2 linked regions of the Homo sapiens genome follow. The protein of the gene in region 2 purifies or fractionates together with the protein of the main gene of each other region. This does not show direct contact. Each region holds a gene or a part of one and is shown on either strand. Other genes may lie near its edges. The genes, in order: PIP4P2 and F10.

What was found.
Region 1: the proteins of F10 (region 2) and PIP4P2 purify together in Homo sapiens (affinity purification with mass spectrometry; one large-scale study listed by BioGRID and IntAct). This does not show direct contact.

The regions. Positions count from the first base shown.
Region 1 is NC_000008.11:90,992,999-90,995,884, forward strand, and holds the end of PIP4P2 (type 2 phosphatidylinositol 4,5-bisphosphate 4-phosphatase), read right to left. Parts: intron 2,823-2,886; coding exon 2,679-2,822; 3' UTR 804-2,678; downstream 1-803. UniProt on the Homo sapiens protein: Catalyzes the hydrolysis of phosphatidylinositol-4,5-bisphosphate (PtdIns-4,5-P2) to phosphatidylinositol-4-phosphate (PtdIns-4-P).
Region 2 is NC_000013.11:113,139,665-113,143,492, reverse strand, and holds part of F10 (coagulation factor X isoform 1 preproprotein), read right to left. Parts: intron 2,575-3,828; coding exon 2,443-2,574; intron 1-2,442. UniProt on the Homo sapiens protein: Factor Xa is a vitamin K-dependent glycoprotein that converts prothrombin to thrombin in the presence of factor Va, calcium and phospholipid during blood clotting.

The sequences.
Region 1 (2,886 bases), on a different chromosome or scaffold from region 2:
AATTACTAGATCAAAGAATATGTGGTGTGTGTGTGTGCGTGTGTGTGTGTGTGTTTCCAATGTCCTCAGCATTACAGGGGTATTATTGTAATTTCTACTTCTTTGTTAATATGGTAAGTGAAAAATAGTATCTCTTTGTTTTAACTTACATTCTTCAAATATTAGAAAATTGGGATCTGGGTGCGGTGACTCACACCTGTAATCCCAGCACTTTCGGGGGGCGAGCTGGGCATATCGCTTGAGCTTAGGAGTTCCAGACCAGCCTAGGCAACATAGCGAAACCCCATCTCTACAAAAAATCCAAAAAAAAAAAAAAAAAAAAAAGCCCAGCATAGTGGCGCATGCTGTGATCCCAGCTACTTGGAAGGCTGAGGTGGGAGGATGGCTTGAGCCAGGGGAGTGGAAGCTGCAGTGAGCCGAGATCACACCACTGCACTCCAGACTAAGTGACAGAGTGAGACCCTGTCTAAAAAAAAAGAAAAATCGAAAAACAGTTTATGACCTATTGTAGTCATTTTGTGAATTGCTTTTTCATACCGTTAGTCCCTTCTGATATTACAGTCTTTCTCCTATTTTGAAAATAGCTTCACCAGTTTGTCTTTTGGCTTTGCTTAAGGGTTTTTATCATACAGAAGTATTTTGGGGATTTTGTTGTTGTTGTTTCATTGTATCAATCCTTTCCTATATAATTTCTTCTTTTAAGTTCTACTTAGAACGTTTTTTTCTTAACCCAAGGTTATACAAATACTTACCTATACATTCTGGTACAAAATATAAAGTACATATTCAAGTGTATATAAGAATTTAAAATAGCAATTCATTCAACCATTTATTCATTCATGCATATTCATTCACGTAAATTGAGCACATGTACACTAAGAACTGTTCTAAGTGGGGATAAAGCTGTGAACAAGACTACCAGGGTTCTTGCTCTCATAAAGTTATTATTCCAGAAGGAATATGACATAGCATATAATTTAATGTGAGCTTTCCAATCAATGAGGGAAAGAATGGATTATTCAGTATACAATGCTGTTACAACTAGTTAACCATTAGGAAAAGAAGTAAGATTATTTTATACCTAACATCAAGTGTATTACAAATGGATTTAAAAACTATATTTTAAAAATAAAACCATTTGAAAATAGTACAAAAAACATAAATGAATATTATATAAAGAAACAGGTACATTCCTAAACATGAAAACTTTACAGCAAGATTTCAAGGCAACTCTGGAAGTGACATTATTTTTAATGGAATAAAACAAGGTAATTTTTGAACAATAATCTTTATTAGTGTATTTTTAAAGGTACATATAATCCTGAGCTACAGCATTTATACATTTGTCATTTACTCTTTGAAGTGTACATGTATTTTGCTTCAAATTCTGTGATGAGTACGTTTTTATACTAATCAGTATCATAAATAATTTAAAATATTAGTCTTATCTCTGGAATCACCAATCAATTTACTCAGATGATCTCACTGTCTAATTCTACTACATTTAAAGACTGTAGAACATTTGTGATTAAGCAATTTCTTTTTCAAAACTGCAAAGATGGGCAGTGCGAGAGCTGATTCCATAAATTTCAATGAATTCTTAGAAAATTATGTTGTTCTTTATTTCTGATCTATTTTCTTGAATAATTTGGGTAATTATCTGATCAGTTACCTTTGAGAAGAATAGTAAAAGTACCTCTAATCTCAACATTTTAGCTACTGTAAAATGTCATAAGCTTCCTTCAAATATAAGTAGTACATAATTACCTCAATAAGAAAAATTTACCATGATCTAAGGGAAAGGGGCACAACCCAATGTAAATATATCTTTGGATAAATGGTTAAGTATTATAAAACATGTTATGTGAAATACTTCCTCAAGCCTCTATAAAGGAATACATAGAGCTGATAAACATTAAATTCCATAATCCAGACCAGATCTTTTATAAATGGTAAATAAAAAGGCAAAAATGAAAGACAAAAGTCCTGTGATCTTTGAGAAAAGACATTTATCCAACATCTCCAACTGTGGACAAATAAATATTCGTTCTTGTATTTTAAATTACTACCAAAATATTTTATCTTTCTACAAACAACAAAAAACAAGCAAACAGTATCTAGAAATTTTTTTTCCTCTGACAAGAATGTCAAGTCTTTGAAGTTACACTAAATTTTTTTTTTTTTCCTGAATAAGGTCACTATAATCTTAGGTTAAAGTTACAGTAAGCAGTTCAAGCAAAATGCATATTGCTTAGGTTTTAAGCAAGCAATTTTGATACTGTTTAATTAAAATGTAAATATAAATGTGAAACTATTATAGAAATATTTATAAACACTTAGGAATACTCATGTATCAGCAAGTAATGAAATAACTTATTTAAAAATAATAAAAGGGTGAGAGTAAATGTAATGTTTGGTAACAAATCCAAAAATATCTATAAGAGATGTAAAAGAACATGAAAAGGCTTTATTATTCAAATTTTGAAAACCTAGCAGCAAAACAATTTGCATATAATATAGTGCAATGAGCATTTGTTCATAAAAGACTCCCAAAGTCTTGAAACGATTATACATAAACCAGAATGGAATCCATTAGGATAAATAATTTAAAGATGTCCAGAGTAGCTTACCAAGAACTGCTAGACACTCTCACCTGCATTACTGAATCATAAACAAGCTTATGCAAAACTGTGTTCTGGATAACTGACTCTTATGGCTCCCCAATAACAAGCTCGGATAAGGCAGATCAATCCTAGGAGATAAGCAATTGCCCAAGAAACATAGGTTGCTCGAAATCGCCTTGCAAAATCTGGGGTGCCAACCTAAAATAAAAAGCAATATAAAAACAAAATATTAGAAACTTTAAAAAATATCTGCTTAGGGAAC
Region 2 (3,828 bases):
ATGCATCTGGCCGGAGGATGCCAACAGGAGAACCCAAGTGCTGGGCGTGTGCGACTCCCTGCAAAATTCTTTCCAGTGTGCTGTGTGTTGGAAAACTTTTCCTAATGAAACATTGAAGAAAAAAAAGTTTTCAGGCAGAAGGAATGGCGCACGCAAACAACTGGAGGCACAGGAGAGCGTCTGGAATAGCACAGCTCCCAGAGAGGCCACGCCGAGATGTTAGGAAGCTTCCTTTTGTATAACGGCCAATTAGGGCACCAAGGCCAAGAGAATGGCTGAAACATGTTGGAGGAAGGCAGGGGTGTGGGGGAGCAGGAGAGGAGAGGAGGGGGGAATGGATGGCAAGGGGCTTCTCTGTGGCCACACGTGTCTGGGGTCAGATGGGCACAGCTTAGCTGTTTACTTGCTGTGCTCCTGCGCAGTCTGAGGAGGCTCCGGTGAATCTGCCAGCCGCAGGGGCCTCCACCCCGCCGTGCCTCAGCTCTGTCCATGTGTGCAGTCACCACCCTTCCAAGTTCTGAGTTCATCCATTATTTGGAACTGAACTTTTTTTTTTTTTTGAGATGGAGTTTCTCTCTTGTCTCCCAGGCTGGAGTGCAATGGCATGATCTTGGCTCATTGCAACCTCCACCTCCTGGGTTCAGGCGATTCTCCTGCCTCAGCCTCCCGAGTAGCTGGGATTACAGGCGTGCGCCACCACGCCCAGCTAAGTTTTTGTATTTTTTTTTTTATAGAGACAGGGTTTCACCATGTTGGCCAGGCTGGTCTTGAACTCCTGACCTCAGGTGATCCACCCACCTTGGCTTCCCAAAGTGCTGGGATTACAGGCGTGAGCCACCTTGCCCAGCCTGAACTTTTTGCACTACAAAGTAGATTATGTAATTTTATTTTCACACATCACATTTGCCTTTTGATTTTTTTTTTTTTTTTTTTTTTGAGACAGAGTCTCATTCTGTTGCCCAGGCTGGAGCGCAGTGGCGCAATCTCGGCTCAGTGCTCAGTGCAAGCTCCGCCTTCCAGGTTCACGCCATTCTCTTGCCTCAGCCTCCTGAGCAGCTGGGACTACAGGCGTGCACCACCATGCCCAGCTAATTTTTTTTTTTTTTTGTATTTTTACTAGAGACGGGGTTTCACTGTGTTGGCCAGGATGGTCTCGATCTCCTGACCTCATGATCCGCCCGCCTTGGCCTCCCAAAATGCTGGGATTACAGGCATGAGCTACTGCACCCGGCCCACACTTGGTTTTAAATGGATTTGTGATTGTTTCTAGAATTAAAAAATATTCGTGTGTATGTCAAGAAATGACTTCAGTTAAAATATTTTTTAACCAGCTTAAGCTTGAATGTCATTGCCAGTAGCAAGGTCAGCCACAGTGTCTTTCACTTGCTGAGATGTTTCAGGCACATAATTGAAGCAGCGCTTGAAGGATGCATATGGAACCCGGTCTTTTCGTGATCACTCATCTTTGGAAGTAAATTGTTTTCGGTAAGAAGGATATGAAAGGAAGAGTGACAGAACACTCGGGAGTAACCTGTGTCTGGAGGGGACAGTCATGGTAGCCGGGGGCAGAACACGGTCTGGGGGCTGAGCCGCACCTGAAGCCGGAAGGTGAGCTGGGTCACCAGGCTCTTGAAAAGGCGGGCCTGGAACTCTGCCCTTCGAATATGCCCCCGGGTGAGGCCAACGCTGCGGGTCGGGCCAGCTATGAGTGGGAGTGGGGTTGCTGTGCAAGGTGCAGCTGTGACGCCTAGGCCCCGCCTTCGAGGGCCTCATGTGTGCTGGCCGTGTGGAAGTGCCGGCAGCCAGGCAAGCCCAGCGTAGGCAATGCCCACGGGGTCAGGACAGGGAGGCTCGTCCCCACCCTGCCCAGTCCCCTGCCTGTCCTGTGCTCACTGCCCTCTGGCCGCCTGTTGTCCACATTCATCAAGGAAAAGAAAAACTACGTTCAATGAACACTGGTCCTGGTAAAAGGAGCTCAGAGCCTGAGCGTCCCCTGACTCCTATCCCAGCCCCGCACCTTAGCTCCAGTTCCTCGGGCCAGCTCTGCCCTTTGCCTGCCCTGGTGCTTTGAGCCCTTGCACTGGATCCCCCCACAGTCCCAATGCAGACTGAGGGCCTGCGGTGGGCCAGGCATCATGCAAAGTGCTCCAGGGATCACCCAAGCAGTCAGGCAATAGTGTTGGTCCCATTTGTCAGATGGGGAAGCTGAGGTTAAACAGCAGATCTGGCTTACAGAAATAATGGGTCTGTTTCCAAACCTCATGGTCTTCATGTTTGAACCACCTGGGCCCGGAGCCCAGGGCTCAGTCCTGTCCTCTTGGTGTCACTGTTACCTGCCAGGCCCGCCCAGAACATGCCTGTGTCCCCACCCCCTGGCACGGGCTTGTCCTCCCTGGCCCGGCCCAGCGGCAGCGGGTGGCTGTGGCCCAACGTGCCTCCTACCTGTGGGAATGCAGGCCTTGCCGTTGTCAGCCAGGGTGTACCCGCGGGCGCAGGAGCACACCACAGAGTTCTGTTCCTCGTGGCAGAACTGGTCACAGTCCCCGTTGTCCAGGCTGCAGAGCTTCCGTGTGACTGCAAAGGAGAGGCACGTTGGCTCTGGGGACAGCTGGAGAAATGGAGGCTGGGCTGGCCCAAGGGTGCCAGCTACATCCACTTGCCTGTCAGCCACAAAGCGGCCATTGGGTTGAGCAAAGGGCCAGAGCCAGGCGACAGGTACACTTGCCTTGAAGGGCAACCTCACGGGTCACGGGGAGCTCATGGTGCAGTGCCCGGTGTAGCCAGAAGCCAGGCTCCAGGTACCTGCCCCTCACACCTCCGGGATGGCCGGTACCCCCTGCCCCAGCAGCACTCACATTACGGTCACTCCACATCCCTCTGTGTGGCTTTTGATGAAAAAGTAATCACAGTGCAAAGATCAACATGCCTGAAATTTTAGAAAATGTGCATAATAGCCCTGGGAGCCTGAACAGGGTTATGCCTCATAAGTTACCAAATGGTGTTCCAGGGAGGCGACTGCGGACTTGGAATGGAATGATGCGTAATTGATATTCTCATCAGGGAAAACTCAAAAGTAATCCAATCTAAGAACACAGTCTAAAGATGATCAATTAGGCCGGCGCTGTGCCTCACGCCTGTAATCCCAGCACTTTGGGAGGTCGAAGCGGGCGGATCACCAGGTCAGGAGATCGAGACCATCCTGGCTAACACGGTGAAACCCCGTCTCCACTAAAAAATTAAAAAAAAAAAAAATTAGCCGGGACTGGTGGCCGGGGCCTATAGTCCCAGCTACTTGGGAGGCTGAGGCAGGAGAATGGCGTGAACCTGGCAGGCGGAGCTTGCGGTGAGCTGAGATCGTGCCACTGCACTCTAGCCTGGGCCACAGAGCGAGACTCCATCTCAAAAAAAAAAAAAAAAAAGATGATCAATTAAGTACTTTAAAAGAAATGCAAATCTTTTTCCTTAGGGAAATTGATCTAACAGTAGCCTAACTTTTTATTTAAAACTTAATCACCACATTAGAGAAAGCACTTAGTGATTTTTCCACGTAGAACTAATTAAATGTATCAAATTTTTATAATTGGCCAATCACAAATATTCACAAATATTGACACCTGCATCCATACACATAAATAAGAGGTGATTTAGAATCACTGCACAGGGTCACAAGGAGCAGGAATAACAGGGCAATGCACTTGGCCCCAAGGAAAACAGAGAGTCCACTCCTGTTTACACATGAATGGATCACACGCTTCATCAATGTTCTACAGTCTCTCTCGGAGGAGCAGAGAAGTGACTGTGTCTCTCTCATCATGCCCCCAAACCGAA